Linked DNA regions of Homo sapiens: all the other regions are linked to region 3. The links come from fine-mapping of genetic effects on gene expression. A gene starts in region 3. Each other region holds a variant in brackets. All regions are shown on one strand. Distances are from middle to middle.

The links.
Region 1: its variant is fine-mapped to the expression of TBCK in whole blood (TOPMed, PIP above 0.99).
Region 2: its variant is fine-mapped to the expression of TBCK in whole blood (INTERVAL, PIP 0.99).

What each region holds. Positions count from the first base shown.
Region 1 is chr4:106,349,649-106,360,463 of GRCh38, reverse strand. It overlaps GIMD1 (GIMAP family P-loop NTPase domain containing 1), which reads left to right. Exons shown (of 3, transcript NM_001195138.2): 3 at 2,021-3,072. The coding sequence ends at 2,281. Among named protein-coding and RNA genes, the nearest start is that of GIMD1, 14 kb to the left of the region's middle. The variant AAAGTATAT/T (reference allele first, on the strand shown) is at 5,372.
Region 2 is chr4:106,171,375-106,176,374 of GRCh38, reverse strand. All of the region lies in intron 22 of TBCK (TBC1 domain containing kinase), which reads left to right. Among named protein-coding and RNA genes, the nearest start is that of TBCK, 140 kb to the left of the region's middle. The variant C/G (reference allele first, on the strand shown) is at 1,917.
Region 3 is chr4:106,311,947-106,322,761 of GRCh38, reverse strand. TBCK (TBC1 domain containing kinase) reads left to right here and starts at 6,553. Exons shown (of 26, transcript NM_001163435.3): 1 at 6,553-6,831. It overlaps AIMP1 (aminoacyl tRNA synthetase complex interacting multifunctional protein 1), which reads right to left and starts at 6,212. Exons shown (of 7, transcript NM_001142416.2): 1 at 6,168-6,212. RefSeq lists enhancers at 6,004-6,253, 6,744-6,803, 6,884-6,973.

The DNA.
Region 1 (10,815 bases), 38 kb before region 3:
GAGGTCTGCTAATTTTGCTATGTTACCATTAGGCAAAATGGGATGCTGACATTATATGGATACTAATTTTTTAAAAATTTATTTTTTAAAGTTTATAATCTATTACAGTAATTATTCCCTAATATACTGATTGTGAAACTTTAAGCAGGGTATTTTTAGAAGGAATAGAAATATGCAGTTATTCTATGGTGGGTGTACATAGAAAAATTTTGAACACATATGAAGAAAAAGTTTGGGCCTATTCCTTGAAAGAGTCCCTCTGAATAGAAAATAGTCCAGACTACAGGCAAATTCATGATGATAAACTGCAAAAAAAAGAAGCTTTACAAAGATTAATTATACTTCAAAACCAAAACCTCAAAAGAAATAAATAGAACCCTAAGACTTCTATTTGAGATGACAATGAGGGTCTAAATTCCAAATTAATTTAACAGATGTTTACTGAAAGTTTACAATGTGCTAAAAGCTTTGATTGATATGGAAAGACATGAATCTTGCCTTCAAAGAGTTCACTATGAAGTTGTAGAAATTGATGTATAAATAAATGAATCTGATAAAAGCCAGACTGTATCAGTTGTAATTGGTGACCATGATTGTGATGTTTCTAATTTTAAATGTTTTGTCCCGTAGTTCTCACGAGTATTTTCATGTTAGATTTACCTATCCAGATTCCTTCTTTCCTTACTCCTGCTTGCCTTCCTTCCTTCCTTTCTCCTTTCTTCCTTTTCTGTTTTCTTTCTTATTTCCTTCTTCTTTTTTCTTTGTTTTCAATTTTTCCATATTATAAATTCTAATCCTGTATTTTTTAGGTACATTGAAAATGATTTCCCAGACTGTCTTTCAATATTTTCAATAATTTTTTAAAACCAGAGTTTGTACTAATACATATAACTCAAAGTCTTTATAAGTCAGTTTGCCAATATCATAATGGAGATAATAATAGTATCTCCCACAAATAATTGCATTAAGCTTCAAAAGAGGTAACGCATGTAAAGTGCTTAGCATAATATCTGGCACTAAATGTTAGTTTTTCTCCTTTCTTTCTTTCTTCTGATTATTAGAGGTCTTGGGTGTTTCTTATTATGTTTATTCCTAGGCATTTTGTATTTTTCTTGCCATAAACTAGTAGTAGCTTTGGAAATATTTTGGTAATAGGAGTGTTCGGAATGGAGGTAATGTTATTTTGTTGTCACATTGTGATTTCATGTAACTTTAGAAATATCCCAAAAAGTTCAAGGGTTATTTCTAGATGCCTTTTATATTACATGAACAATTTGCCACATGCTGTTACTTCTGCTTTATATCAGCTTATATTCACTAATCAAACAAGAATTTATTACATAACCAACTTCCACATATTACTAAACAAAGGAATGCCAGTCTTCAATGTTTTTCAACCACATTAGAGGAAGTCATCAGATAAATTGGGTTCCATTCTAAGCATGTGAAGTCAAGAAGATGAGACTCACAGTTATAATATTTTGTGGTTCGTCCAAATCACCAAATGTATTTTTATCTGAGCTTTTCCATTACATGTCACCTGATTAATCAATAGATTCTTAACAGATTATGTAATTTTATATCTTTAGTAGATGCTTTTAATGATAATGATAAAAGTAAAAGATAAAACAATTCCCTTGACTAAGGTCCTCCGACTTAAATTCAGTGGCTTTAATGGACTCAGGTAGTCAGACAAGTATAAATGATTACTGAATGTTGAGAAATCTATGCAGCAATGATAATATGCAGTTTTGAGGTTGTGTATATATCAATTATCATAGTAAAATAAAAGAGAGAATTTAATTCTCTGTTTAATCCTGCCTTTTTCAGAAAGTCAAGCCTTTTCCCTCCATTTACTTAAAATACTTGACCCTGTCTTCATTTCCTACATTGTATATCAGCTTTCAGAAACATAATAATATGGATCTGCTGGCTATCTATATTGGACCGTAATAAATCCTTTGCTCATTTTTGAGGAATATAGTTCAAGTTCAATAGTTATCTAACTTCTCTCTTTCAGGAACTTCTTGGACATGCTTGGATGAATTACACAGCCATTCTTTTTACCCATGCAGAAAAAATAGAAGAGGCTGGGCTTACTGAAGATAAATATTTACATGAGGCCTCTGATACCCTGAAAACGCTGCTAAATTCTATTCAGCACAAATACGTTTTCCAGTACAAAAAAGGAAAATCACTCAATGAACAAAGAATGAAAATCTTAGAAAGAATCATGGAATTTATAAAAGAGAACTGTTACCAAGTTCTTACATTTAAATAAAATTTAGGTGAAAGGAAAGGAGCATTGGGTATTGGAGTCAGAAACCTAGCTACAAAGAATGCCTTTATTGACATGAATGTGGACCATAAGTATTCTGATATGCTGCTGGTGAGAGTGTACATTGGTATAACCACTTTGGAAAACTAGAAGTTAAAAAGAACATCAATGATTCAAGATTTCTAATGCAAATCCCATGACATAGCAATTACACTCCTAAGTGTATACCCAACATAAATGTGTACATTTGTGTACTAGAAGACATGTATGCACAATAATGTTCATGGAACTACTATTCAAAAGCTAAACATACAGACTATTCAAATGTCTATTAATATTAGAATGGTTAAGTAAATTGTGGTATATTCCCACAGTGGGATATTAGAATAAGTAATTAGAATAAGCAAGCTCAACTATATGTAACGATACCAGTGAATTGCCCAAACATAATGTTGAAAAATAAGCCAGACATAAAAGAGTACATACTCCATGATTCCATGTGCAGAAAGTTCAAAAACAGTAAAACAAATGTAATCTAAACTACTCTGATGGTAGAAGTGCTGGAAATTGGGAGAGTGGTTAACCTTGGGGAGGAGATTGTGAGTGAAAGGTTACACTTGATGTGGCTTCTGAGATTCTGGTCATGTTCTTTTGTTCTCTTGATTTGGAGCCTGGTTTCACAGGATTTGTTCACTTTGTGAAAATGCAACAACAAACACTTGTGATTTATAAACTACTTGTATATGCTATATTTAAATAAAAGTTAAAAATAATTAGTTATTATCCATTAAAAAGGAACTAGCTCCACTGCTTACTTGATGCCAGAAAAGAAAAATTGTTTAAACTTGTCAGAGTCTGTTTCCTTCTTTGGAATACCTACTCATAGTTATTGTAATGATTAAATGCCATGGCACATGGTAGTTGCTTAAAATATGTTAATTTTCTTTTCCACTTCCTTGTAACCTGTGGTTTCTATTTCAGTTTGGAAACATTTGGTAAAAACTCAGAGCAAGCCCTTTAGCAAAAATGAGTATAACAATTGTGATAATTGACTATGAATAAAGCCTTCACTAAAGACCTTCTACCTTTGAAGGTTGGCCACTATGGTTTAGTGGAGAGCTTCAGGATGGTCCCAATGGTAGCAGTGAAAATTGAAGGAAAATAATTCCAATCAGTGATAAGAGTGAAGTCCACCAGCAAGTCAAAATTAGATCACTTTCATAAATATTTGTATATGAACTTCATAATTTATAAAATTTTTTCACAAAGATAGTTCCCAATTTACAGTTTGTTCTTATAAGCCGGTGGTTATTCTCCCAGAGTAGTCTTCAAAAGCCTACTTTAATGCACAATATTATGTGAACTCCAGTACACGTTTGAATTTGTGCTAGATTTATAAAATGTTTCTATAGGAAAGCATAATACAGATTCCAACTTAAAACAACATCTCACTTATTTCTTTGCATGACCTCTTGCTCCTATGCTGTGGGCCCTGGACTGAGAAGTGGGAGACTCAACAATGGGGCAGAGTTTGGAAGTGCAGTGAGAACTGACACTTGCCCCACGGGTTGTTGGGGCTTGGGACAGAGAAAGAGACTTGATGCTAAGAAGTTGAAACAATGGTGACTGGTGGAGAAAAGGAGAATGGAAAAGAATTCAGGTGTTAAGTTCTTCATATGCTTCATTTATGTGTTGTCAGTTAACTTTTCTAGAAAACAAAAACTAGTTCATTTCAGGAAGTATATATGGTGCAGAACATTAAGGATTTAAGCTCTGTGAGGCTGGCCTGATATTGATGATTAATAGAGAGGTGCTTTTAGTCAAAGAGGATTTCTGTGATATTCTTCCCTGAATTATTTATTTTTATATTTGCATATACAGTATCACCCCTTATCTGTGATTTCACTTTCTGTGGTTTCAGTTACCTGTGGTCAATTGCAATCTGGAAATATTACATAAATAAGATTTCTTAAGAGAGAGACCACATTCACATAACTTTTATTACAGTATATTGTTGTAATTGTTCTAGTTTATTTTTAGTTATTCTTGTCAATCTCCTACTGTGTCTAATTTAAAAACTAAACTTTATCACAGGAATGTACATATAGGAAAACATAGTATGTTTAGGGCTCAGTACTCTCTTTGGCTTCAGGCATCCATTAGGGCCTTGGAACATATTCCCTCTGGATAAGGTGTTCCTACTGTGTATACATGTGTGTATATACACACACAGACATTTCCACATAAATACTTAAATGTGGTAGTATTACATACTTTATTTTCTTTTAGCAGTCTTATGTGGCTTTTTTGCTTTGCCTTTACCTCTCTCCTCTTCTCCTTGCAAATCTGCCCATTACAGATAACTGATGCCAACCAAAAGCCTGGTGTCCACTGTTTCTATTTTTCTTCATGTCCAGGTAATCATCCCCACACAGCACATATAAACACATAAAAATATACAGGGCTTTTCAACTTAAAAACAAGTTTTTGTATTACACTCTTCATAATATATTTTTCTTTCACTTTAACACGGTTGTAGGACTTTCTCCTCGTTTCAGCTAAAAACTGGGTTCTTGTCACACGACCAAGAAAGATTAGGCTCATGGACACATAGAAGGGTGAGAAAAACGGAATTTATTGGGTGAAAAACGAAAAAAAGCTCAGCAAAGTGAGAGGGGTTCCTGTTAATGGGACCCCATCTCACCAATTGAATCCCAGGTTACCACCCAGTGACAGGAGAGGCTAGGCTCCTCCTCTCTGCAAACAACAAGAACTTCCCGCGGCTCCACCTTGTCCTCTCTGTGTGCAGGCCAGTTGGAGATTCTCCAGGAGCCCTTTTTACTTGGCTGTCTCAACACCACCTCATTTAAATTTTTCCAAACCTAAAATATAGCCCAAATTCATTCTTTTTAAAGGCTGCAAAACATTTCACAGTGTTTATGTAACAATTTATGCAACTGCTCCTCTGTTGATGAGCTTTCCAGTTTTCTGTCACCCAAAGCAATGCTCAAGCAACTATTCTTGTACATATATTTTTAGTTAATACTATTTTTCTGTAAGTTATATTCCCAAGAGTATATATATAAAAGTATA[AAAGTATAT/T]ATACATTTAATATATCTTAACAGATTCTTTGTAAAAATATTGTGATAAACTTGATTTCCAACAACGTGAGTTGTTTTCTCCCCATCAATGGGTGTTATCATCTTGAACACCTATTGTTAACAAGTTGAATAAATGTAAAACCACAGCCCACTGTTACTTTATTTGCATTTCCCAATTGGAACGATTTTCTGTATTTGGAACATTTTTGTGTAAGCATTTTGGTAATTTAGACTTAGTCTTTTATGAATTGGCTCTTCACATCCTTTGTCCTTTTGTCATTTCTTTTTCTATTGGATTACTTTTTGTTTGGCAAATTGGAAGAGCTCTATGTATGTTACAGATATTAACCCTCTGTCTGTCCTCTGAGTAACAATTGTTTTTTCAAATCTATTATTTGTCCTTTAACTTTGTATGGTAAGTTTTGCCAAACTAAATTTGTGAAATTTTTTATAGTCATATATTTCCGTGTACATGATATAGCTGGTTTTAGTTTTACTTCCTTTCAGATGAGTAACCAGTTGTATTTGTTCTATTTATAAATTCATCCTTTTACTACTTATATGGTAGGTAGGTAGCTAGATATAGAGACTGAAACGTATATCCTGGATCTATTTCTGGATTTATCCTGTATTTTTAATCCTATTCTGTTACCTATTTTATTTATATTGTTCTCAATACCAAAGTGATTTAATTGTAATAATTTTATATCATTCCTTGATATCTAGGAGGTCAAACTTGTTTTCTTTTTTCAAAATATTTTCTGGTTATACTCAGGCATTCATTCATACATGTTCTTAGATTGTTTTTCCTAAATTAAAAAAAAAATATTTTGTGTGTGTGTGTGTGTGTGTGTGTGTGTGTGTGTGTGTATGGTAAATGACACCCCATGATATTAAATCTTCCTTTACAAGGACACAGAATATTACATTATGTTTATTATTTTATATTAGTGTATTTATTGTATTTTTTCTTTTCCTTAGTTTTGCTACCTTGATAACATTGCTATTAATTCAATATTTCCCCTTGATAATTTGGAAGTTCTATTCTAATTCACCCTCATTAAAGATTATTTTCTTGCCCCTGATTTCACAATCATGTACATACTTCTCTGCTATTGCCTGATGACACAGTATGAACTATTTCCCTTACCAAGAATTTCCTACTATTAAAATAAGACCCTTACAATACTTCCATTTCCGCCCTAGTTCTCTTTCTCCTATCCTCCCCAGAAAAGTGGACTTTGGAATGCTTTTCCTTTCACCATATTACTAGATTGTGCTCAGATATTTAATTATTTAATTCAAGACTCCCCCTTGCAGGTTGTCCCTTTTGTTTCAAGAGTCCTTTCTTATAACTTACATTGCATATATCCTGGTAGTTTATCATTAGCTCTTTTAATTCAATATACAAATAGTAGAAGGTCCATATCTTACCACTGTTTTCCTTCCTCTTCATCTTTTCCCATCTTTCTGGTTAGTGTGTTTTCCCAATATACTCTGAATTCTAGTATAATATCCATGAAGCATTAAATTCTAGACATACTCTTCTGTGTACCATTATGCAATAGCAATCCTAGCTTTTCATAAGAATCAGCATAGTGGGTGTAGGGAAATATTTTGTTAGTTGGTAATGGGGATGTTGGATTATATGAATGTTAAGGCACTGAAGTGAACGTCTTGCTGCTGTTCTCCATTTGAGGCTGGTTTGTTCAGCTTTTTCTGGATGACAGTGTGTGCATATTCATTGAATAAACTCATCTGTTCTGGAGGTAATTACAACTTGCAGCTGTTGGGGGCTCAAAAGACCATATTCCAAATACGAGACCTTGGCATGCTGAGTACTTTGAACTGAAGGAGATTGGAGGAGCTTCAGAGGCAAGGTCTTTCTGTCCTTCTCCTGCCCTCCTATGTTCCACCTCTTTTTCCCCTTGAAGAAAGTCACAGAAACCAGAATTTCTTATCCTGAAAGCAAGCCATAAAACTTAGAAAGGTCACTGTCTCCCTTCTCCCTTGATGACCCTCATTCCAGAAGGGTCCTGCCCCATACCCAGGGGAAGGCATGCTACAGACACCAAGAAGAATCTGGATGGCCTTGCTGGGTTTCCCTGACCAGTCTATTACAGTTTAGCACTTTCTCTTTTATCCAATTACATTGCTATATGGCTGTCCATTCTTCAGCAATCCTAGGCACAAAATAGACAGCTTTCCCTGAGTCTTTTGGTCTTCATTTCTGAGGGCTCGTGTATCATGTAAAACTTGGATTAAATACACTTATGTTTTTCTCTTGTCTTTTGTTACAGGAGTGTCAGCTTTGACTCTTAAGATGGGTAAGGAAAGGTATCACATCTTTCTGCCCCTACGCATCTAAAGAACCATGAGACTAGGATTACTTTAAGTAAAATAAGCGATGTCCAGCAAGTTCATCTTTTGTACCCTGCCACCTTTCCTATGAGAGTCTATTATTTGCAATATTTTCTCATGTCCCTCTAGATGCCTAATCTGTATGCTGTTCTCATCCAGACACCAAAAATCTCTACTAAAGCTTAATTTGAAAGTGCTTTGAGTATTTTAGAGGATTGGAAGACAGTGTATCTGATGTTTTTGTGCAGCTAGTGTTAAAGTCTCATTAGTGCATTCAATGTGGGGTCACCAGTGATTACCCCTGCAATCTATCAGCTCTGACTCTTGCCAGGCTTGTTCCTCTAGATACATCACCTCAAACAGCATTTTCAAAGACTTTCTTTTTTAAAGCTATGTTTATCTATATTTTTTATATTAAAATTTTTCTTAGATTTTCTATTCTACTGATTTTCAGATATACTGTACTTCTTTTACATAAAGCTAATGCTTTTATGTGGCATTGCTATTTCCCAGATTCTCACTCCAACTTTGTTTTCAAAACAAATCTCTCCAAAAGTATCTGAAAAGTTTTTGTTTTTGTTTTCAATGTATGTGCAGTTTTAACACAAAAATGTTATCCTTTTATAGGAAAACTGAAAGTTTTCGAAAAAAGTTATTTCTACTGAAATCATTCCCTTTTGCTAAACTTATTGAAAGTGACTTTTAGTTTGCATTTTTCATTAATCTTTTTCAAAGAGAAATACAGTTGTGGTGTTGATTTTGGATGACTCTTGCACTGTTCTTTCCAAATTCCCCAGGTGTGAAAATTTGAGGGATTTTAAATGAACAAGTATCAGCCAAATATGCAATCTGAAAACCAAAGTGCACATATATATTGGGTGCATTTCTCTGCTGGGATGCATGATATTCTAATGAGGCAATTTACAAAAACAAATGTAAAACTTTGTCAGAGCAGCCTTAATATGAAGGTTCATCACAAAAAGGCCATTGAGGAAATAAGACATTAACAATGGCTATTTGAACAATTCTGTAGGCATTATGTAGCAATGGGAAGGGCAAGAGTAGTTAACGCTTCATTAAAAAGGATTTTTCTTTCTTGCAATTATTGGGTCTCAGGCTTGTTTCTGCTCCTGTTGCTAAGGCCAACAGCCTGCCAGATAGGAAATGATGTTGATGAAGACAAAAATCATACTTACACACGTTTTTGTACTTAAACATCTAGAGAATTGGGAATAGTGTGTGTTAGGATAGGTGGAAGTTAGAAAGGAAGGGGAAAAAAAAACCCAAATACATAAGGGTGAAAAAATACAATATACAATAATTAGTTCACACTCTGAAATTCCAGATGGCTCACTTTCACACCAACAATTATTTCATTGTTCTGGGTCCTTCCTCCAAATATTTTTATGGAGTTATACTCCTATGAGTTATCTCTGCCAAGATTTACTCAAAGGAAAAACCATAACTATACAAAGTACAATGCAAAATAATGTGAAGTGACTCTTTCTAATTCCAACAAGTTGGTACCTGAAGATGATTCAGTTTTGTACAGAGGCATATTAGCCATCAGCAACTATCCTTTTCATCATTATTGCAAATTTTGGGGTTATAAGTAGTATCACAATGGAGTATACCTATGTTTCTGTTTTAAATTATCTATCTGTATGGAACTTAGTGACATCTATCATGTTGGCTTTTGGGATGGACTGTCATTACACATTCAGTGCCCTCAATAACAGCGCACTATTCAAAGAATCATGGTATAAACCTCTTCAAAAAGGCAACTGCTACCAGCAGCAGCAGCTTGGTTTTGCCAAGTGAATTCTCCCTATATATTTGAATAGTAAAAAGAAAAAAAATTGATAAATTCTCTTCATAACCACTCCAAAGAGTGTTTAATAATCTCAACTCTCCCTTTAGAATCTCTTAAGTATTCCACTAAAGGAGCTAATCATAAACTACTCAAATTTAGGTATTTTTATGTCACTATTTTTCTCTAACATTTAAAGTAAAGCTAAACTTTTCATTCAAATAAAAGAAACCACATGACCATTTAACTAACATGTTAAGAAAGCATGATGTATTGGAGAACACAGGATCAGTAAGAACTGAAAAAAATTAAACCAGGTTTCAACTTTGTATGGGGCATTTATTTAACTTTTCTGTTGACTCTTTGGGGTAAAATGGCTGATCTACCTCAAAAGGAGCTTTTAAGGGGTGGATAAAACACATGAAAAGACTAGTTAGAAGGCAATAACAATCTTAATAGTAATTCTGTAATAAAATCCATGACAGTAGACATGTATTATTAATATATCACCCTTACATTTGTTAGAGAAGGCATGATTATTCCTTAACTAAAATTTTGGAGGGTAGAGCTTTCTCCATGAGACAGCAATTTGCAACATTATTGCCTGTTGAGCATACTAATTTGCCCTTCCTAGTTCTTTTTATTTTGCATCTTGGTGATAAAGTTGTAATTTTCATACTGCTGGATAGCACTTAGAATCAGGACTTGTGTCACTATTTATGTAGGTGAAATACATGGCTAATGTTATATACTTCTGATACTTTTATATTTTAAAAGGACGTATCATTTCTCTGAAAAATTGAGGAGGTATACTCAGGCCATTTTAATGCCCAGTTATAAGAAACAGCGAGGTGCTCCCCAACTAAGATTTTTTTTTTTTTTTTTTTTTTTTTTTTTTTTTTTTTTTTTTTTTGAGACAGGGTCTCAACTCTGTAGCCTAGTTTGGAGTGCAGTGGTGCAATCACAGCACACTGCAGCCTTGCTCTCCTGGGCTCAAAGTGATCCTCCCACCAAACACTACCCCCTATCGTTGAAATCCTTAAAAACCAGAATACATCAGATGCTGAAGTGTTATGTCCAGTTTGCCAACAATGCTATTTCTTTGTTGATTCCGTAAGAGCTCTCCCATCCCAGCAATACAAATAAAACAGAATTAAGTTTTCTGTGAAAACAAGTACTGAATAGGGCTGAATGGATAACTTGGTCAATGCTTTCATACAACTTGAAAAATCACTGATTAATTCTCCACTTCTTTCTCTCTTTAG
Region 2 (5,000 bases), 140 kb after region 3:
TTGAGAGTAGATTGATAGTTGCTAGAGGCTAAGAAGAATGGGCTGGGGGATGGGGATGAAGAGAGAGGTTGGTTAATGGATACAAAATACAGTTAGACCGAAGGAATAAGCTCTGTTGTTCAATAGACAGCACAGTAGGATGACTATAGTTAACAATAATTTGTTATATATTTCAAAATAGCTAGATTTAAAATGTTCCCAACATAAGAAAATAAATATTCGAATTGGTAGATGTTCTGATTACCCTGTTTTGATCATTACACATTGTATGCATATAGCAAAATATCACATGTATTCCATATTTAATTAATACATAAACTATGTACAATTTTATGTATTAATTTAAAAATAACAGTAAAGTAGAAAAACCAAGCCATCTTCATGTTTTGTTCAAGTCTTTATAGGCAAAGTTTGGACCCTAGTCAAAAAAGGGCTCTAAGGAGCCTGGCTAGACTTTGGTTAAGGAGAGCATCTTTGTCAATACCCAGAAGTTACTTCAGATAACAAAAATATGACCTATTAAACCAAAGTAAATATGTTCAGCTTACTCTTAGTTATATGTAGAGCATGCACAGCCATTGTAATGTTGCCCAATATCAAGGAAGTATAATGGAGAGAATTTGGTGTAGAAAGAGGCAGCATTCTTCATTGTTGTGGTTGAAATATTTTTACTTTGTCAAATTTTACAAAAGTGACCATTTTAATGGTAAATATGGAGAGGCATTCTCTGGAGTAGTAGAGTCACTGAGTCTTGAGACTCAGAGCCAATAGGCATAGCAGAGAGCAGGAGTGAGTGAATGTATATAGTTATACAGGCCCCTCCTATGGTCATATCTGGGAAGGCTGGCAAGGATGAGCTTAGAAGATCAGAGAATTATCTGGAAAAACTCAATGTTCCCAGAAGGAGAAATATCTTACTTAGGAGTCTTCTAACAAAATAACCATGTCCCCAAATTACCTTATAGTTAATCCACCAGTCACTAACCCCAGCCCACATAAAAAAAAAAAAAAAAAAATTCAATCTGATTTTTGGTGCTGTTCTTGTAAATATGTAGAATCAAAGATCACAAAATCTCTGAGGAAAGCTTCCAATTAAGATACAGAATAGTATAAACTGAAAAAATAATTTATTCAGAAAGATAACTATGAGAAAATTAACTATGAAAAAACAGAACTTTTAAACATAACAATGAAAATTGTTGAAAATCTGGAAATTGATTTTTTTTTCTTTTTTTTTTTTTTGAGAGAGTCTTGCTCTGTAGCCAGGCTGGAGTACAAGCGTGATACAGGCGTGATCACTGCTCACTGCAGCCTTCACCTCCCAGGTTCAAGCAATTCTCGTGTCTCAGCCTCCTAAGTAGCTGGGGTTACAGGTGCACTCCACCACATTTGGCTAATTTTTGTATTTTTGTTTAGTAGAGACAGGGTTTCACCATGTTGGCCAGGCTGGTCTCAAACTCCTGGCCTCAAGTGATCCTCCTACCTTGGCCTCCCAAAGTGCTAGGATTATAGGCATGAGCCACCGTGCCTGGCCTGGAAATTGAAATTGATATAGAAATGCAATGATGTTTGTGATGAAAATGTAAGATGATAAAATTTAGGAAATCTCACAGAGTATGAAACAAAAATACACGTGGAAAGTAAGAACAAAATGACAAAATTATTAGAAATTAAATTCAGGAAGTTCAAGATTCTTATAGAATAGAAGATTTAAAAAGAAACAAATTATCACAAACATCAAAAACATACTTTTTGTGTAACTGAAGGACTACTCAGGGATCCACCAAATGCCCAGCACAATGAAGTATATGCGTAAGTATATCACCATGAAATTTCATAATACAGGGATCCTAAAACTTAACAGAGAAACAGAAAATCATGTACAAATAATCCTAAATCAGAATTTTATCAGACTT[C/G]TCAGCAGCAGACATTGGAGCTCTACCTTTAATAACTCAGAAGAAAAAAATTCAACCCTAGAATGCTGTATCTGGTCAAACTATCAGTCAAGGGCAGATTAATGATATTCATTGAAGGTTTTTGAATAGTTTACCTCCTGTGTACTCTTTCTTTGTAGCTGCTGGATAATGTGTTTCATCAAAATGAGAAGTAAATATGAAAGAGTGGTAAATAATGTCTTACCCAAAAAGTTAGGAATCAAATATAGGGGATAGCCTAAGAGAATTGGATAATGGTAAAGAGAAGTTCCAGGACAATAGCTATGCAATAAATTTCAGAAGGAATTTATAGCCATTAAAGTGAGAGAAGAGCAGGCTCAGGAAAGCTGTCTTTTCCATCTATCCTTGCCCAAATGGTTGTGTTTATCATATTGAAAATAGTTCAGTATTTCTGAAAGATCTAATACTAATGGGTGCCAATGAAGAAATTAATAGATTTAGAGAAGTTATTTTACCCAGAGTTGCAAAATACCTCATGGAGCTTTAATTCAAACCTGGGAAACCATAATCCATGTTTTATTCACAATGCATTGTCTCAATAATTATAATGCAAGGTTAAAAAACAGTAGTGCCATGTAATGAGAGATTACTTTGTAGGAGTAATTGTGCATTTTAATGTACACTTCACAAAGTACTTTTGCATTATATTTTGATTATGATAATGTGCTTTGGAAGGGTTTTGAGATGAGAGGTGACATGAGTCAAGTGAAATGGAAAATGAGATATCTGTTAGAACTAACCATCAGGGTAGAATCGGGATGGATGCCAGTACATCATCAAGATTCACTGTAAACCTTTTATGGTGTTGATGGGATGTCTTGGAAGCAGATAAAAATAACTTTTCCAATGCCAGTGATTGAAGGACTGCACTACAACCTTTACTCTAGATCACTGACTCACCTTCAAACTTTGCTGGTGACAGATGTGTCAAATTGATTTGAGCCCTGCAAATACAAAATCTATGGACTGAAACCCTTTCCTTTGGAAACTAAACTGTGTTAAGTAGACAGACTTTAGATGGTTGAGTATTTTCTCTCATTAGCTGCCAAATTTTTATCTTAACTATTTGAATTGAAAGTTTTCTAAAATGAATTGTGCTATCTCTTTTTTCTTAAACAGGCTAGAGAAACCTGTCTTAAACCTTGATTTTTCTTCTAGTTTGTGTTTGTATTTTCTTTGTGAAATAACAAGTTGATATTGTTAGAGAGCTTCACTATATTATCCATTGCCCAAATAAATAGGCCCATGCCTCAAAGCTTGTTTCACTCTGTTTTATAGTTTTTATATTAGGAATAGCATATGAGGTGATGAAATCTGACCTCTTTTTGTAGCCATGGAAGTAATGAGCTGTGAAGTTGGTAAACATCACTAAGGAATGCCTAATTGAGTAACTGGTCTTATCAGACTATCTTTTCATATTCCAAATCTAAGTTAGGAAGTAACAAAAGATGCCTTATAACCTTATAGTAACTTCAGACTTCTACTCATAGTAACATACTTAACAAATCACTTAACTTCCTTGTGTCTTAGTTTCTTTGTCTTTAGCAGAAATAGAAGGTGGGAAGAAGAATTACGATACCTGTCTTTAATAAAATCATTGTAAGAATTAAATGGATTAAGTGAAAGTATACAATACCTGTCACATAATAGATGGTCAGTGTTACCTTCTTTTTCCCTCTTCCAGATTTCTTCACCTTACCACAGCAGATAACTCTAAATGATTACTCATGCACTATCCACAGAATTTACTTAATGCCTATTTCCTTTTCCCCTTACAAGCCCTTCATTTCAAAAAGAGGGGGAGAAAAAAAGAACTTACCACTTTCTGACATGTAATATATTTTTCTCCATTGCCTGCCTGAGCCCGACACTTGGACTTTTACAGAGGAAATGAGAATATATGCCATTTGTACTTTTAGAAATATGGAAAGATAAAAACTAGTCAGTGCTAAACTCCATCACAGTCAACTTCTTGAATTTCTCCGCCTTTCTGTGATCTTTCTACTTTCGCCATAGAGGACTGGCTAACTTCTCATCAGGACTGTTGGCCTCCTAAAGAGATACAGTCTCATCCAAAACACAAACAATATAGAGTTGTAGTAACCTTTCTATGTATATTACCTCTGCATTAAAGATGCTTACATTTCAAACATGAGAAACAAAAGGAAATCTAATATGAAAGTGTTTCTATTTTATCTTTTAGTCAAGTGCATTTAAACCTTACTTGATTAAACTTTAAAACCTTTCTTCATTTAACTCAAGAGATTATTAAAGAATGGAGAAATGCTAGTTGGGCATGGTGGATGATCCCTGTAACCCTAGAATTTTGGGAGGCCGAGGCAGGTGGATTGCCTGAGGTCAGGAATTCAAGAACAGCCTGGGCAACATGGCGAAACCCCATGTCTACTAAAAATACAAAAAATTAGCCGGGTGTTGTGGCATAGGCCTGTAATCCCAGCTTCTAGGAAGGCTGAGGCACGAGAATTGCTTGAACCTGGGAGGCCAAGGTTGCAGTGAGCCGTGATTGCACCACTGCACTCCAGCCTAGGAGACAGAACAAGACTCTATCTCAAAAACAGGAAAAAAAAAATTGAGAAATGCTGAATTGAGATTCTGAAAAATTTTTTCTGATAATTTTATATCTTATTTAATGGCAGTAAAACTGTCAGTTCACTTTACTAGAATTCATTCTGAATCAGCAATCAACATCTTCTAAATCTTTTGTCTACCTATTCCCAAATTGTATTCTCCCCCTATAACTTTTGTTTCACATTGGAAAAGTGGAAACATCAGCATAAATTTGGCAGATTTTTAAATAAGGAGATGTGTTCTATTCTGTGGCATTTAAATAATGATACTCTGAAATATATACATATGTATATGTAGATAATTCCAAGTAAAAGACACACATGAAAACATAAGTAGATACATTTACAAATATATATAAGCAAATTATACCAAATATTTCCATCAATCCAGTCATAAATATGCTGATTAATATATACATTGTTTTTTTTACTGACATTTTTTCTAATAACTTATCAT
Region 3 (10,815 bases):
CTGCCCACCTCGGCTTCCCAAGGTGCTGGGATTACAGGTGTGAGCCATTGCACTGGCGCCCAGACTCTACTTCTTCTCCAGTCCTAGATAACTGGGTATCTGGAAATATTATTCATGATGCCAATGTTAAAAAGTCTCATCTTGTGAAATCTAAAAATATTTCACTTCTAGTTACGTCTGTGTGTTAACAGAACTGTGCTCAAGTGCTAAAAGCCATTTGCTGTCTTTAGAACAGAAGCTCTGGAAACAGGTTTTCTAATACTTGTTGATTAATTATCATTTAAATTTTTTAAAAATATAGGTTGGATGCATAAGTTTATGTTAATGTTTTCTAGTAACATGCAGATAATGATCACTAGCACTGGCAGAGGAACATGGGTATATATACCCTTGGGCTTGCTTATATATACTTAGACTGTGTGACCTTGGTAAAGTTATCTAAATTTTCTATACTTTTTTTTTTTAATTTTTTTTAGTATTTATTGATCATTCTTGGGTGTTTCTTGGAGAGGGGGATTTGGGAGGGTCATAGGACAATAGTGGAGGGAAGGTCAGCAGATAAACATATGAACAAAGGTCTCTGGTTTTCCTAGGCAGAGGGCCCTGCCGCCTTCTGCAGTGTTTGTCCCTGGGTACTTGAGATTAGGGAGTGGTGATAACTCTTAAGGAGCATGCTGCCTTCAAGCATCTGTTTAACAAAGCACATCTTGCACCGCCCTTAATCCATTTAACCCTTAGTGGACACAGCACGTTTCAGAGAGCACGGGCCATTTAACCCTTAGCGGACACAGCACATGTTTCAGAGAGCAGGGGCCATTTAACCCTTAGTGGACACAGCACATGTTTCAGAGAGCACGGGGTTGGGGGTAAGGTTATAGATTAACAGCATCCCAAGGCAGAAGAATTTTTCTTAGTACAGAACAAAATGGAGTCTCCTATGTCTACTTCTTTCCACACAGACACAGTAACAATCTGATCTCTCTTTCTTTTCCCCACATTTCCCCCTTTTCTATTCGACAAAACTGCCATCGTCATCATGGCCCGTTCTCAATGAGCTGTTGGGTACACCTCCCAGACGGGGTGGCGGCCGGGCAGAGGGGCTCCTCACTTCCCAGATGGGGCGGCCGGGCAGAGGCGCCCTCCACCTCCCAGACGGGGCGCCGGCCGGGCGGGGGCTGCCCCCCACCTCCCGGACGGGGCCGCTGCCGGGCGGAAAGCGGAAACGCTCCTCACTTCCCAGACGGGGCGGCTGCCGGGCGGAGGGGCTCCTCACTTCTCAGACCGGGCAGCCGGTCAGAGACGCTCCTCACCTCCCAGACGGGGTGGCGGCGGGGCAGAGACACTCCTCAGTTCCCAGACAGGGTCGCGGCCGGGCAGAGGCGCTCTTCACATCTCAGACGGGGCGACGGGGCAGAGATGCTCCCCACATCCCAGATGATGGGCGGCTGGGCAGAGACGCTCCTCACTTCCTAGACAGGATGACGGCCGGGAAGAGGTGCTCCTCACTTCCCAGACTGGGCGGCCGGGCAGAGGGGCTCCTCACATCCCCGACGATGGGCGGCCAGGCAAAGACGCTCCTCACTTCCTAGACGGGGTGGCGGCCGGGCAGAGGCTGCAATCTCGGCACTTTGGGAGGCCAAGGCAGGCGGCTGGGAGGTGGAGGTTGTAGCGAGCCAAGATCACGCCACTGCACTCCAGCATGGGCAACATTGAGCACTGAGTGAGCGAGACTCCGTCTGCAATCCCGGCACCTCAGGACGCCGAGGCTGGCAGATCACTCGCGGTCAGGAGCTGGAGACCAGCCCGGCCAACACGGTGAAACCCCGTCTCCACCAAAAAATACAAAAACCAGTCAGGAGTGGCGGCGCGCACCTGCAATCCCAGGAACTCGGCAGACTGAGGCAGGAGAATCAGGCAGGGAGGTTGCAGTGAGTCAAGATGGTGGCAGTACAGTCCAGCCTCGGCTCGGCATCAGAGGGAGACGGTGCGGAGAGGGAGAGGGAGAGGGAGAGGGCTATACTTTTCTTAATTTAAAAAATTACTTGTACCTGATTTCACCTCCTACTTCCTTGTCACCTCCTTTCAGGGCTCCTTTTTTTTTTAATCTGTCCCATTAATGATGCTGTTCTTCAGGGTTTGGTCTTAATCACTAATCTTTTCTAGGGATCACAAACTAGCCTGACAAAGTTCAGGGATAGCTTTCTTTTCCAGGGCTAACAGTGTTGGAAATAACTGATGTGAATGTCTTTAAGTAAGACAGACAGACACTTTACTACTCCCTGTTGTCTGCCATTTATATTACCTACCAGGCTCCTAAAATAAGTTCATGACCCCAACTTTACACTCCCTGATTTTGTGTCATGTGCTGGGTTTATAGTAGAGAACAAAAATAAACATGTTCTTTGAACTAACTAAGCTTTCAGACAAATGGGGGAAACACAGTTGAAGACATTTTTAAAATAATGTTACGCTTAGGGCACAGTGATAGTTTAACAACAATACTGCTTAAAGCTCAAACAAATCTTTTACCATTCAACCCAGTGCTCATTTCATTAATCTCTATGCTAATTACTCCCCTGTGATTTTTCAATTTTACATTGAGTATAAGTCAACCTTCAAAATTTTAAATCCTCAGAGTTTCTAATATGTATAAAGTTTCTCATAGATGATAATAACAACTACATATATTTGTAGAACATGCGCTATGGCTGGCTAAATGCTTTACACAAGTCAATTTCGAATACTGTAATAATCTCCATTATACAGAGAAGAAAACTTGAATTAAAATTAATTTGCCTCATGTAATACATAGTAAACGAGGATTGAAACTCAGGTCTGTCTGATGCTGCAGTTAGCTCTTTTAATGCTCTAGCTATAATTTCTCTAAAGGATATAATTACGAAGCATTTTCCAATATATTTAATGACAGAATCCTAACACAGGAACAGCTATTAACATTTATTTGAACTAGTATTCTCTAAAACAGTTTAGGAAATGCTAGTTTAAGTCTCTGGACTAAAATGTAAAAAAATTAAGACTGTGAGATTAAAATAGATATAAGAATGACATGCACAGTAATTGAAAATATAAAACATTTATGAAGAGAGAAGCACAGAAAACTGTAGACCAAGTATGTTAATTGTGTTTGGTGAGGATCAAGACCTTTTCTTTTTCCTTTACTAAATTAAAATGGTAATAATGCATTTTTTAGGACAAAAGCTTTTGAAACATATTATCTAAATCATTCTGTCCCTTCACATTAATTTTGTCCTTCTCAATGTTAATTATCATACTTCATCAAACCTAAAAAGCCATTAATCATACGATGCCTCTAATGCAGAATCCCAAATACTGTACATGAATTTATAGTACATCTTAATCATTAAAATACACACACAAAAGATGATTTTTGAGATTCTGAGATCTTCACTATCATTTTTGTTTACTGAGCAATTTCCTCAGTAGTCCTCCCCACCCACACCATCTAAATTGCCTGCAATCTTTTTGAAAAAGCAAAATCTCTGCCCCACGATGACAACATTGGGAATCAAACATAAGTAAGTTACTACTTTGAAATCAAAGTTTTACAGGCAGACTTTTAATTTTAGAATTCTTATGCTATATAGGAACGCTACACAAATTTGAAAGTGTCTCTACTCAAAACCTCTAATTTCCCTATTTCAGAATTACAGTAGGTAAAAATTTACATTTTTGTTGGAAGCTTTAAATACTATACAAGAAATCTAAAATGCCATCAATTGTAAAATGGCTTCAATCCCAAGAAGCTCTATTATTTTATGTACATTATGAAAAAAAACACTATTGAATCAACTGACCCAATGCTTTCTTATTACTTAGACACATCCTATATTATTTATTGACAGACTTCTTTTAAATTTAACCCTGGATTTTTATCTTGTATCACCCTTTGTTTCCCCACATACACAGTAACTTTTCATTCTAATGCTAATCATAATCTTCTAAATGATCTTTAAAAGGGAAATTACACTCAACAACTATATGCCAATAGTGCATATATAACTCAACTGAAATAATGACAAGATTAAGTTATGACTAAGTGGGTGTAAGTGTGGGCAATGACAAATATCTCACAACTGCCAATTCATCTACAGTGATTTAAAGATGTCAACAACTTAAAAATACATCCCTATTTCAGAGATGTTAAGTAAGAGAAAAATGTGTATCTCAGAATTGATGGAATATAGTAATTTTAATCATTTTCTTCCTTTCTTCTCCTCCCTTCATTCCTATTCTTGCCTTCCAACTTCTTTCCCTGATTTGCTACACAATCTAATTACTGGATATGTAAAAATATTATAGTATACATAAAATACCCCACACTGAAAGACCGTCCTTATTATAGTGTAAAGCAATGTGGTACCTTTTAGCACTAGGTGAAAATTCCTGCTAGGATTTAAATCATATGTGTCAAAAGTCAGAATTTAAAGAAGAAAATTAAATACACTGAGAACAATGCATCTGAAGACACTCAAAATATGTAAGCGCAGCAACCAGCAGTAATTCCCTAGGTCTTTTATCAACCTTTGCCAAAACCTATAAAAAGAATATCTAAAATTGCTTTTTTATGGAAGTTCCTATTTCCCTTACCAGACAGCCTGCTTTCCCTTTACTGATGAGGACATAGGGGGTCCTGGAGGGTTTAAAGGATGGCTATAAGGAATGACTATAGGGTGGACAGCTATGAGAGGCCAGTCCATGCATTTCTAAATACCATCGTCATTAACACAAAAACTTTCCTCCCCAGTACAGAGTCCATAAAATTTAAAAAGGAGTATGCCTTGGCCTCCCATGACCCTCTTACCTCACAATAAGGCCATCTTTTACCTGGTTAAGATTTGCAGACTAGACCCATTACATACCTTGTCATTAAATACCTATAATATACCCTAACCTTTGCAATCTTGACAGATGTGATTTCCATTTTATAGACAGATCCAGGAAAATTACATGACTTATCTGAATCCCTTCAAGTACCACATAGCAAAGCCATGATTTTAACTTGTGTTTGCCACTCTGAAACTCACACTGGAATTCATTTTTCAAGTGTCCTCCAAAGCCTAATTAAATAAAATTAACCCTGTCATCTATAATACTCTTACATATCCAAATTAAGTGCATCAAGAATATAACTGGCCATTTCTTACCACCCATAGTCAAACCACCATTATGCTTCCTCTGGATTATTGCAAAACTCTTCTTATTGGTCTCCTTTCTCCTACCACGTCCTCCTCTGTGTATTTTCCTTAAAGAGTGACCCTCTTAAAAGGAAGTCAGAGCCCATCACTCTACTGCTCAAAACGCTCCAAAGTCCTATTTCATTTAGAATAAAAGTTAGATGTCCTCAAGATCTTCATGACCTGCTCGCCTTGATTTAATCTCCAGTGAAGGACTAAACCCTTCACTCAACTCTGCCCTACAGGCCTCCTTGCTATTCTAGCACGTTTCTGCTTCATGACCTCTGCAATGGCTGGTCCCTCTGTCTGACTGCACTTTCCCAAGATATTCGCGTGGTTAAATCTCCCACTTCTGTCAGCCCTTTACTTAAAAGTCATCTTTTCAGCAAGACCTTCCTGTGTCACTTTATACCCTTCTTCCCTGCTTTACGTTTCTCTTCAGGACTATCACGACCTAAAATACAGTATGTTTCTAATTACTTTGCTTAGTATGTGCCTTCCTCTCTAAAATGTGAGCTACAAGTAGACACAGATTTCCGTCTGTTTTGTTCACTGCTGTTCACCTAATGCCTAGAACGGTGTCTGGAATAGAGTGGGCGCTTAATAACTATTCGCTCAATGAATAAATTCCTGTCTTCACCCTCCTCTCCCCCAAAGCACCTAAGTCCTTTGACACACACATTCACATAACAGTAAATACGCTTAGGGATCGATATTTTTCTGTAGCATTCTTAACTTAGGCCTGCATCCCATTTCTCAAACGTGGCTCCTTTAGAAGGAAGTCTCAAACTCTTTCCTGTTTCCTTAGGCCAGGGCTGGTCCTGCTGCGAACGGACTACCCATTAGCAGCGCAGGCCAGGTCCTCTCTCCTGGAGGCAAGTTAGAGAAGGAAGACCCCTACGATCGCAATCGGCGATCCCCGAGTGAGTGACCCGCCACGACGTCACTCACATGAAGCGGAGGACCACGGGTTCCGAGACAGCCACAGCAGGAAGCATGTAGGTCCAGCCACCCGCGTACTATAGCAGTGAGAAAGGACCCAATGAGGTGTCCTTGCTGAAAGCCTGAGTGTTCTACAGATTCAACCCTCAATTCTTTCTTCCTCTTCCTGTGCTCAGTCCCATTAACCTGCCATACCACGCTCCTCGTCTTCCATTCCCTCACCCAGTATTTTCAATCGACCCCCCCCGTCCCCCCGCACCTCTTTCTCTCTCGCTATATGTCCTTTCGTGGCCAGTTTGGGCAAGGGGAAGGACACCACAAGTCGGGGTCTTTCCTCAGCGTTGGGTCGCGGTGGCTGTGAGGGCGGAAGAAAAGGCCAGGCTGAGGGGAGGGTAGAGGGTGAAAAGCTCGGATCTGTGTTTGGGGAAGGCCAGGCTTGCGCTCCTCGCCGGGTTCCGCGAAGGTTAACCTTGGCTGACTTGGCTCGCGAGCAAAGGGCAGCGTCTGAGCTCCCGGCGTTCCAGGAGTGGCCTCTTTTGTAGGAGCACCTGAAATGCAGCGTCTGGTGCACTAAGCCGTAGCGGCAGCAGCAGCCACAGCGACAGCGCTGGGGCCCTGTGTAGAAGCTCCATCCCCCTTGTCTTTGTGCTTGCCTGCGTCCCCAGACTCAGAGGCAGGTATTTGGGTAATCCAGTTTTCCGTGTCGTAGTGGGTGGGGTCTGTGGGAGGTAGAGGACTATCAGGAGCAGTGAGTGGCCCCGCATGTCTTCAGAATAGATAGAGAACCGAGCTGTGGAGCCGCTTGCTGATAGGTACTGTCTCCATCCCTAGCTACAGCCCGCCTTTCCTGTAAATCAGGTTCACCTGAGTCGTTTGGGAACCGTAGGCTTAGTAATCGCTCTGTCACTGCCTCAAAGGAAGGCTAAAGGAGGTTAGAGAATCTAGAATCCGCCCCTCCATTACTCACCTTGGAGGCAGAATTTTGCTTTGGTTTGTTTCTGGCCCTCGAGGTTTAGTCAGTCGTCAAAGTGTAACACCCCCTTGAGCAGTAGGAGAAAGTGAAGCAGAGGAAGGAAGTTACTTGAGGATTGTCAGTGGCTGCTTTTCAAGGATCCCTGTCCTGGTTTCTATCTATTTGAGACAAAAATAACCTCTTGAGAGAATGTATATATAAAATAAATGAATTAGTATCATTTTCCTGTTGAAGAAATGTGAAATTTTATTCATGATAAAATCGGCGTCTTTTGCCCTATTTTTTACTTTCTTTCCCCATTCGAGTCGTTTAAAACTCTAAGTTCTTTGAGGGCACAGAGTCTGACTTGTTCATTATCCTTTGCCCACCAGCTGGAAAAACAACTGACTTAAAATAGGGGCTTCAAAATATTTGTTGAATGAATGAATTTTCAAGCCCAACTGCTTGCACTGCTGTTTCCCTCATCTAATCTCTCATCTCTACGTTTTTTTTCCCCCGGTAGTTTTCTTCCACTCACGAGGTGTAAGTGAATGTATGTGTGTGTATTTTTGTGTGTGAGCCTTTTTATGTACAACCATTTAAGAGGTAGTGGAAAAAGAACACTGATTATGCTAATTAGTGTTTTATCTTTTTCGATCATTGTGTTTTATTTGGTTATTTTATTTTCAGCTATGTGATGATAAAGACATCTGATTGAAAATAAAATGGTCGGGCGCGGTGGCTCACGCCTGTAGTCCTAGCACTTTGGGAGGTCGAGGCGGGTGGATCACCTGAGGTCAGGAGTTCAAGACCAGCCTGGCCAGGATGGTGAAACCCCGTCTCTACTAAAAATACAAAAATTAGCCGGGCGTGGTGGCGGGCGCCTGTAATCCCAGCCACTCTGGAGGCTGAGGCACAGAATCGCTTGAACCCGGGAGGTGGAAGGATGCAGTGAGCCGAGATCATGCCACTGCACTCCAGCCTTGATGACAGAGTGAGACTCTGTCTCAAAAAAAAAAAAAAAAAAAAAAAAAATCAAGTAGTATAGCGTAGTAGGATTGAATAATAAAGTGCAACTGTCTCACCTGTCCTACTCTCAGTACTGTTCTTCAAAGATAACCACTTTTAACCTTTTCTAATTTTAGGTCTGTAGGTTAAATAATAAGTTAAACTGTTAATTCTTTTTGTTGACTTCTTGAGATAGCCCTAAGTTGAACTGCTAATTCTTTTTCCGTTGACTTCTAGAAATAGCCCACACCATTCACAATCTCCTCTGAATTTTGGAAGAGTCATAATCATAATTTTTAGTTTTTGTATTGGTTACTTTATAATTCAAAATAATATACGTAAACTACTTTTTTCACATCAACTTTTGAAAATATATTTGACTCCTTGTTTGGTAAAACGAGAAAAGTAGTGATTCTACCTTTTTCTTTATCACTTCAGAAACTACATTTATGCCCACTTTCTCTTAGCTGGACATTTACTTGTACATTGTCAAAGTTAGTAATATATTTCTTAACTATAACATTTGCGCTTTATTCACGTGCCAAAAACCAATAAAAAAAATAAAATGTTTACAGTATTATGGCTTTATAGTTGTTACTTAGAGCAAGTCCAAGCTGTATGCTCTGATATGTTTTTTTCCCCAGAGTTTTAACTTCATGATCCCTGTGCCATACTAAGGAGATTATTTATGATATCAAGGTCAAATGGGTTTTTATTTCTTTCCTGCCAAGGGCAAAATATGCTGTAGTTGAGCATGCTTTATATTTTGGAGTATGTAATACATAGTTTTTAACCGTCCCCACTTTCTTAATTGCCTTTCTGCTTTCTCCTGGGGAATAGGTAGGTGGATGTGCTTTCTTCACTGAATCTTCTCATTCTTTGTATGATGCACATAGAAGCAAGCTTCCATTCCTCTGTTTGAAGATTTTCCCCTTAAAGCCCAATGGCTTTCTGTTTAATTTGAACAGATTGCATTCTAGTCCTTTTGTATTGCTCCTATCCTGGGCTTATATTCATTCTTGGGTAAATAACATTGTTTCTTAGCCCCTCATCTTCTGTTATTGGGCTTCCCCCTATTTCCCTGGAATATATCCTAAGGAAACTTGCTCACAAAAGGCAAGTGAAAGGTAATTTTATTTTTTAATGTTCGTATAGCTGTAAATTATAATTTGCTCTTATGACTGATAATTTGGCTGTATATAGAATCAAAAGTATTTTCCTTCAACTCTCAATCCTTCCATGTCTTCTAACTTTTTTTTTTTCCTTTTTTTTGAGCTGGAGTCTCACTGTGTTGCTCAGTCTGGTCTGAAACTCCTGACCTCACGTGATCCTCCCACCTCAGCCTCTCAAGTATCTGGGATCACAGGCACAAGCCACTGCACCAGGCTCTCTTCTGACTTTCATTATTGCTGATGAGAATGCCAGTCTCACTTTAACTTGTTGATAGCAGAATCAGTTTTTTCTGTCTGAAATGTTTACAATTTTCTAGTTACGTTTGATGCTTTGAAAATGTATAGCAGTGTTTATCTTCTCATAAGCTGTTTTATTTTGTGTGAGATAAAATTTGATACATATTAAAACACATTGATTTTAAGTGGCCAATTTAATGAGTTTTGATGCATGTACTCATCCATAAAACCACTACCACCACAATCGAGATAGAGAATATTTCTACCACTACAGAAAGTTCCTCTGTTTCTCTGCTTATTCAACCCCTCTCCCCCATCTACAGTACTATCTTCTGATTTTTTTATTAATACTATAGTTTAGAACTATAGTTCTGGAATTACATTTAAATGGAGTCATACAGTATGAACTCTTTTGTGTCTGCTTCTTTCATAAACTTTATGTTTTTGAGTATATCCATGTTTTGACATGTTTGTTCCATTTTTGTTAAATAGAATTTCATGGTACAAATATGTTAATTGATTCACTTATGGGACATTTGCATTGCTTCTGGTTTTTAGCTATTAAGAGTACAGTTCCTATGAACATACTCATACAGTGTTTTTTTTTATGGACAAATGTTTTCATTTTTCTTGGTTAAAGAGTGGAATTTCTGAGTCATAAGTTAGGGATATTTTTAACTTTAGAAAAGTTTTCCAAATATTTTCCAAAATTCTTTTGCCATTTTACGCTCCCACTAGCAATATAGCAAAGCTCCACTTCCACATTCTCAACACTTGTTACTGCCAGTCATTTAAATTTTAGCCATTGTAGAAGTTAAAGGTTTGTCATTGTGATTTTCATTTGCATTTCCCCCAATTAATGATATTAAGAACTTTTTCATGTGCTTATTATTTTCATGCCTTGTGTGAAAATATGTTTGTGACTTTTACCTATTTATGTATTGGCTTGTTTTATTATTGAATTGTGGTATTTCTTTATAGACTCCGAATACAGGTCAATTATATACAGACACACATATGTTTGATTTTAAAAGGTCATATATATACATAATGTCATATGTATATACAGACAGATGTAAATAATATTTCCCTTTAACTCGAATTTTTATTTTCTCAGGGGTGCCTTTGGATATGCAGATGTTTTTAATTTTGATGAAGTCTACTTTGTCAAAATTGTCTTTTGTGGCTAGTGCTTTGTTCTATTGTGTCTAAGAAATCTTTGCCTAGCCTAAGGTTGTAAAGATATTCGCTTATGTTTTCAATTAGAAGACTAACAGTTTTACCTTTT